Homo sapiens: one gene and its partner. The protein of the gene in region 2 interacts with the protein of the main gene of each other region in a pairwise test. Each region holds a gene or a part of one and is shown on either strand. Other genes may lie near its edges.

The links. Proteins that work in one complex are often made in the same cells at the same time.
Region 1: the proteins of PTCHD1 (region 2) and EPB41L1 interact in a two-hybrid assay, tested with the Homo sapiens proteins (one study listed by BioGRID and IntAct).

Annotation. Positions count from the first base shown.
Region 1 is NC_000020.11:36,161,240-36,164,739, forward strand, and holds part of EPB41L1 (band 4.1-like protein 1), read left to right. Parts: intron 1-3,500. UniProt on the Homo sapiens protein: May function to confer stability and plasticity to neuronal membrane via multiple interactions, including the spectrin-actin-based cytoskeleton, integral membrane channels and membrane-associated guanylate kinases.
Region 2 is NC_000023.11:23,341,349-23,344,848, forward strand, and holds part of PTCHD1 (patched domain-containing protein 1), read left to right. Parts: intron 1-3,500. UniProt on the Homo sapiens protein: Required for the development and function of the thalamic reticular nucleus (TRN), a part of the thalamus that is critical for thalamocortical transmission, generation of sleep rhythms, sensorimotor processing and attention. Can bind cholesterol in vitro.

The sequences.
Region 1 (3,500 bases), on a different chromosome or scaffold from region 2:
AAGCTGCTGCTTGGGCTGTGCAGCTGCCCACACCCAGACTGTCCTTGGACAAGCTTTCTACCTTCTCTGTACCTCAGTTTGTCCATCTGTCTGGTGGTGATCAGAGCCATTGCTGCCACTGAGTGTCTTCTATATGTCAAATACTGTGCTAGAGCAAGCTTCATGTGCATTATCTGTTTTTCTATTTTTTCTTTTTATTTTATTCTTCTTATTTTTTTGTTTGTTTGTTTTTTGGGTTTTTTTGTTTTGTTTTTGAGATGGAGTCTTGCTGTGTTGCCCAGGCTGGAGTGCAGTGGCAGGATCTCAGCTCACTGCAACCTCCGCCTCCCCGGTTCAAGCAATTCTCCTGCCTTGGCCTCCCAAGTAGCTGGGATTACAGGCACGTGCCACCTGCCTGGCTAGTTCTTGTATTTTTAGTAGAGACAGGTTATCACTGTGTTGGCCAGGCTGGTCTCGAACTCCTGACCTCAGGTGATCTGCCTGCCTCAGCCTCCCAAAGTGCTGGGATTACAGGCCCAGTCGTTATTCTTGTTTTTTTAAAGACAGCCTGTCACTCTGTCACCCAGGCTGGAGTGCAGTGGCATAGTCACAGCTCACTGTGACCTCAAACTCCCAGGCTCTAGTGATCCTCCTGCCTCAGCCTCCTGAGTAGCTGGGACTACAGGTGCACCCCACCATGCCCGGCTAATTTGGGGGGGGCACAGGGTAAAGACAGTGTCTCGCTCTGTTGCCCAGACTGCTCTCAAACTCCTGGGCTCAAGCAATCCTCCCTCCTTGGCCTTCCAAAGTGCTGAGATTACAGGCGTGAGCCACCACACCCTGCCTATCTCATTTAATTCTCACTATACACCTTGGAGGTGCAGGGGATAGTCTTCTCAATAGAGGTTAAGTAACCTGCCCAAGGTCACCAAGCCTGTGGCATCAGGATTCCAGCTCTGGCTCATAAGCCCATGTCTGTAACTGCTGTTTCCTGCCCACTCTCAACAGTGGCTAATTGGTGAGGTCCAAGCAAAATGATTATAAAAAGATCCTTTAAGTTGTAAAGTGCCCTGCATGTGGGAGGGATTGATACTGCCGTTATTATTTCTACATCCAGAGCAACAGTAGCTTTGGTTATATGGCTTACAGCAAGTTGGAGGTCGTGGGATGTAGCAGCATTGAGTGGGGAGAGCACTGGACTGTGAGCCAGCAGACTTGAGTCCTAGTCCTGGCTCTCCTTGAAACTGACTAGCCATGTGGCCTTGGCCACTAAGCCGCCTGGGAAATAAGCTCACCTACTCCGTGTGGCCCTTGTGCAGCTCAAATAAGATAAAGCCCAAAAGACAGCCAGCATGTTGCCCAGCTCTCGGAGGATACCCTGCTAACGGGAGGTCTCTCTCTGCCTTCTGCATCGTCATCAGGATGGGCCAGGTGGGACGCATGTCTCCGTTTTAATGCTGTTACTCTGCAGTTCTGTGCTGTCACGTGGTCCCCAGCCCACCACTGCACATCAGCCTGAGGCTCCCTAGTGGCCCGTGAAGCTTTTGGGCAAGAAGCCAAGGCTGATGGGTGGTGGCCTTTTCACATTGTTTGGTCTAAAGTGGTGTCCGTGGGTACTGCAAACCTCTGACGAATTGCCGTCTCCCCACTGCCATGTACAAATCCAAGCACCAGACAGGATGACTGCAGACTCAGCTCCCTTTTTGATCCTTCTTGCCTGGCTGTGAAAGTGGCTTGAGGTCTCAGAGGCAGCTCTCTCAGCCTGTACCCTCCATCCTTTCATTCACGTCCATGTAGACATTATCACTCAGGGAAGTGAGTGTTCCATACTGGGGAAGTCCCCTTGGGAAGGAAGTCACATCATCTCCAGCAAGTGAGAGAAAGAATAAGCCCTAATAGGCACTCTTTCTGTTTTTTTTTTTTTTTCTTGTAATTCTTCTTTTTTCTTTTCTGACTCCGAAAGTAATACATGCTCATAGTAGAAAATTGAAAAATACGGAGAAAAAGGCCCCTATTTCCTTCTCCAAGGGAAGGCTATTGTTAACATTTTAGTCTTTGGACTTAATTGGAGAGTAATATTTCTGGAGCAAATATTTCTAATATTCTGGTATGTGTTTAGTGTTTTACAGGCATGATCTGATTCCATTTTCACAGTAAGCCTGTGAGGTATGTAAGTTTATCATCATGACTTTACAGATGAAGAAACTGAGGCACAAAGAGGTTAAGGGGCTTCCTGACGGTTCCCTTGCCTTCCTTGACTTCTTAGCTTATTCTGCCTCTTCTCAGGCTCCCCTTATCCTAAGTGAGCATCAGGTGGTGGATCAGTCAGATTCTGACAGGAAACAGAATTCCACTCAGATGCTTCACCTGAGGAGATGTTAATAAAGATGTGAGCAGGGTGAGGGGAACCCACATGGGATGGTGAGGCACCCACAAACTAACAGTGACAGAAGGCATTACTAGCTCTCGGCCTGAATGAGCAGGAGGGAGTGGTGTTACCTGAGTTCCGTGACTGGTAGAGGTGGGCAGGGAGCTGTCGCAGAGGGGCTCAGCCACCACCAGGACCACAGAGAGAGAAATTGGGGAAGATACACCCAGGATCTCTCTCCTTCCACCTTCTGAATTCCTGCCAGTGCCTTCTTCTTTATTATTTTTTTTTTAAGACAGAGTCTCTGTCGTCCAGGCTAGAGTGCAGTAGCATGATCTTGGCTCACTGCAACTTCCACCTCCCAGGTCTGCCTCAGCCTCCCTAGTAGCTGGGACTACAGGCGCCTGCCACCACACCCAGTTAATTTTTATATTTTTAGTAGAGACAGGGTTTCACCTTGTTGGCCAGGCTGGTCTCAAACTCCTGACCCCAAGTCATCCACCCACCTTGGCCTCCCAAAATGCTGGGATTGCAGGCGTGAGCCACTGTGCCCGGCCCCTGCCAGTGTCTTCTATTGGCCAAATGGAACCAGAAACCAGGAGGCAAGGGAGCTCAAGGGACAGTCCAATGGGCCAGCCTCCTGCTTCTTCAAGCAGGTCATGGATCTGGGGGTGCACATGGAGACTAACAACCCAAGCGACATGGTTGTAGGGAGATGGGAGAGACATGTCCTCTGACTTCCCAGAAAGAGTTGTCTTAGTAACTGACTATTAAAAACATCATTCAAAACAAGAGACTTTTTTTCTGCCTGGGAGTCTCTTGGTGTTTTGGTGTCTCCTCCCTCCCCTGCCCCCCATCTCCTCTCTCACCTGGTTCAGAATTTCCAAGAACACCTGGGCAACAGTCTTTGGTGTCATCGGTGTGCAGGGTTTAGAAGAGACAACCTTGCTTGCATGATACATGTGGCTGTGTGTGTTCTCATGTTGTTTCACTGCTGTGCCTATGCATACAAAGACATGCTTCTTGTGTACATGTCATAAGCATCTATAACATAGTCTCCTCTGTATCCAGCAGAATATTCACTTTTTATTTATTTATTTATCTAATTTTATTTTTTTGAGATGGAGTCTTGCTCTGTCTCCAGGCTGGAGTT
Region 2 (3,500 bases):
GAAGGAGAAGTAAGCTAACAGAAGTTATTTGTTTTCTACCTGAGTGTTTCCAGTCCCTTGGCACAAAAGCCAGGGAAATGTGAGATGCTGGTGAGCTGATCAACTTTGACTTTGTGGGATGTGCCATCTGGTACCTGATTTCGGGGCTCAGTGTGAGCCCCAAGTGATACTTGAGATAGGCTTAAAGCAGACCTTTGAAGTCACCTGCTTGATAGCACATCACAGCAAGCAGGCCTGTCTGCAGCACTGCCTGTGTCTCCGCCACATACCCGGAAGGCCACAGAACTACCGAGGAATCCTGCCAGACTGATTTAATGACCAGCAGGGGAGGTGAGTAATCGCTAACCTTTAAAAGACAAGAAAAGGAAAAAAAGAAAATCAACACCAGTTGTTATTTCTTACGGGAAGCCCTGAATAATATGTTGTGCTTGCAACTTCTGAATTCATATTTTGAACAAAAGGAGGCAGTGAGGAACTAGAAAAAGCTATTTTTATCTTCTTGCTCTCTAAGAAATCCTCTTGAGAATATTGTTTCTGCTATTTTGAAAGATCCCCATTGTTAGGTCTTCCACTTTAGGTTTAATTCATAGGCTTCAAGTACAGTTAAGATGATTTATGTAAGTGCAGTCGGTTATCTTGGGAGGTGATATCAGAAAAGGCTGATAGGGGAGTGGGGAAGTAAAACAGTGAGTAGCAGGAAGCCAATCAAGAGAGTATTATTAAGCAAGTGTCTACTGTGGGCAACTGGGGCTCAGTCTCACTAGGGAACTCTGGGAGACACTGTAGAATGTGTTGGAGAAATCTCAGTTGTGGATAAAGAAGCTGAATATTTTCTCCCCAACTCCAGCCATCATCGGCTGATTCAACTACATTTAGAAGCATTAAATTTCTGGCATTTTCATATGCTGTGTTTCTCCCTATATATATATATATATATATATATATATATATATATATATATATTTTTTTTTTTTTTTTTTTTTTAAAAGAATTGGGTACAGAGCTACAGGTGTTTGTGGCAAGCAACCTTAGCATGGAGAGGTGAGTGTGAGCTGAGACTATATGGGTGGGACCCTGAGAGCATCTGCCCTAAGGGTCTTATATTCATCTAGAGTTATACATCGAGAGATTTAGTGCCCCGTTTCTAGGGAATGGATATTCATCCCTTTACTCAACAAGATGGCTATGACCCTGTCTCCATGAAGCTTACAGTTAAGAATCATCCAGCATAGCTATTTAGTTATTCCCAAGTTTGACAAGTGCCAGTGGATGCTGGTAAAGATGACTCCAAACAGGGCCTAGACACCAACAGGATGTGTGGTTTTAGATGCCAGACCTCTACATTTGAGAGGCACATATTCATTCTCACCTTTATGAATACAGAAGTCTGCAGGCCCCCATCTTCACACATCTACTTTTGTTGTTCTCCCTAAAAGTGCCCTCCCTCCTCTCTTTAAGGACCAGTTCACATGCCTTCTACTTTATGAGGCTTTCTCAGATTCATGGCTTCTTCTCTCCCTTAAATCTATTGGGCTTTCATTCTTATACACATTCTTTAATGCAGAGCTGTAGACTCTTATGTAATTTGCTATATTGTCATGTGATCGTTTCTCTTAAGAGAGGTAATGAACTCTTCAGGGGCAGGAACAATGTCTGACACTGCCAGATCTCTCCTAGAGCCTAGCATAATGTGGAGTTTGCAGCAGGTGCTTAATAAATTGTTACTGGTTTATAGCTTGTAAGATGGAAAATGTGCTCTGCCTCCCTATTGATTTATTTTGGTCAAATATAATTTTGCCTGGTAGCATGACCATGTGATTTCTTGTGCTCTATATTCATTTTTCATCTTTGACAAATCTTGGTTTCAAACTTGTTGATAAGCAATAAGCATCCATTCTGTTTCCAGATCTGCTGCCATTTATATGAGGAGAAATTCTTGGAAAACCAAATATCTGACAACCTTCTCTGGTCCAAGTACAGTTTGGGAGGGTATGAACTTGACCTCAGTCCCCAATCAGTGGTGCATTTCCATGTGGGAGGGTGGATCCCTGTGCAGTTCCCAGTGAGCACCCTGGAACCCAAGTCCCCACACTACACATTCCCTTATTTACTTAAAGAAAAGTCTCAAAACATTGGCCACACCCATATTCAAATGTAAATAGGAAACACACTTAAAAGAAAACATCAAGGACAAGTGGTTTTCCTGACCATAGCACCAGTGTTCAGGAGATCACCATTCTGATGTTGCTTAGTCCCACTCTTCTTAAAAGTTAGCCCAGAGGAACAGAAAGTATTGTTCTAAGAGGCAAACTTAAAAGAAAATGATACTGGTACAAAATCAGCATATTTCTGTGAGTTTAATGGAAACACTAAAACTGCTAATTTTTCAGCGTGGAAGATAAAGATTCCTTTACCCATTCCTCCATGAGGCTCTCCTGCTGTCACTAATACCATGGCTTTGTCAATTCTTTCTAATTGTCTCAAGAAAAAATAATGCATCTCTGCTATAGAGCTGTCATTATAAATGCTCAAGAACATTTTGTGATATTTATACCTTAATTGTATGAGGTTTGAGTTGTTGGATTTTGTTTTTGGTCTTGTGGTATAGGCAAGTAGTCCTACTGAGTAAAGATTGTTTGATTGCTCTCAGACTTTCTAACATGCACACACGTCACCTAGGCATCTTGCTAAAATACAGACTGATTCAAAGGGTCTGGGGTGGGAACTGCAAGTCTGCATTTCTAACAAGATCTGAGGTGATGCTGATGCTACAGATCAGCAGAACACACTTGGAGTAGCAAGGCTCAAATTTAACTGTTGTAAACAGAAAACTGGATTTAGAATCAGGAAAGCCAAGTTCAAGTTCCAGTTCTCCTAAGTATGTATCTTTGGGCAAGTCACCTAACCTCCCTGAGAAACACGCTCCTTATTTGCACTGGGTGTAATAGCATCTCTTTCACCCACTTAAGGTAAAGATAGAATGAGATAAAGTATGTGAAGGCACTGTGTAACCATAGCCTTCTGTAAAGTGTGTTATCATTATTACTATTTACTTTGAAAATGACTGCTATTTCCTCACATGTGCCAGCTCTTTCAAAGCCATTATTGCCTGTTGAGTAATACACATGTAGCCACTTTTTTCTTTGATCCAACAGGCAATAATGGGTGCTCAAGCTACATTCAATACTCATATTGCCAATTTGTTGGTCTTTAATGACTCCATCTGAGTCATTACAGACAATTGGATTCAACCTACTGCTGAGCATGCAGCTCCTCTACCTGCAGAAAGTTCTTAGGCAGGCAGAGCTGCGGATGGGGATGGGTGCATTGCATTCCAGCACACCAACGTGGTTCCTCTGGGCTCAGAACCTACTCTTCATGCCTGATGGGGCTTTGCACACAAAAAAAGCCTTCACTTCCTGCCCAGGGAAGTGCCTTTTGAATTAAAGGTTCTGAGAGGCTGCGGGCTCTGGTTTCAGGGCTCTCCTCACCACATCTCA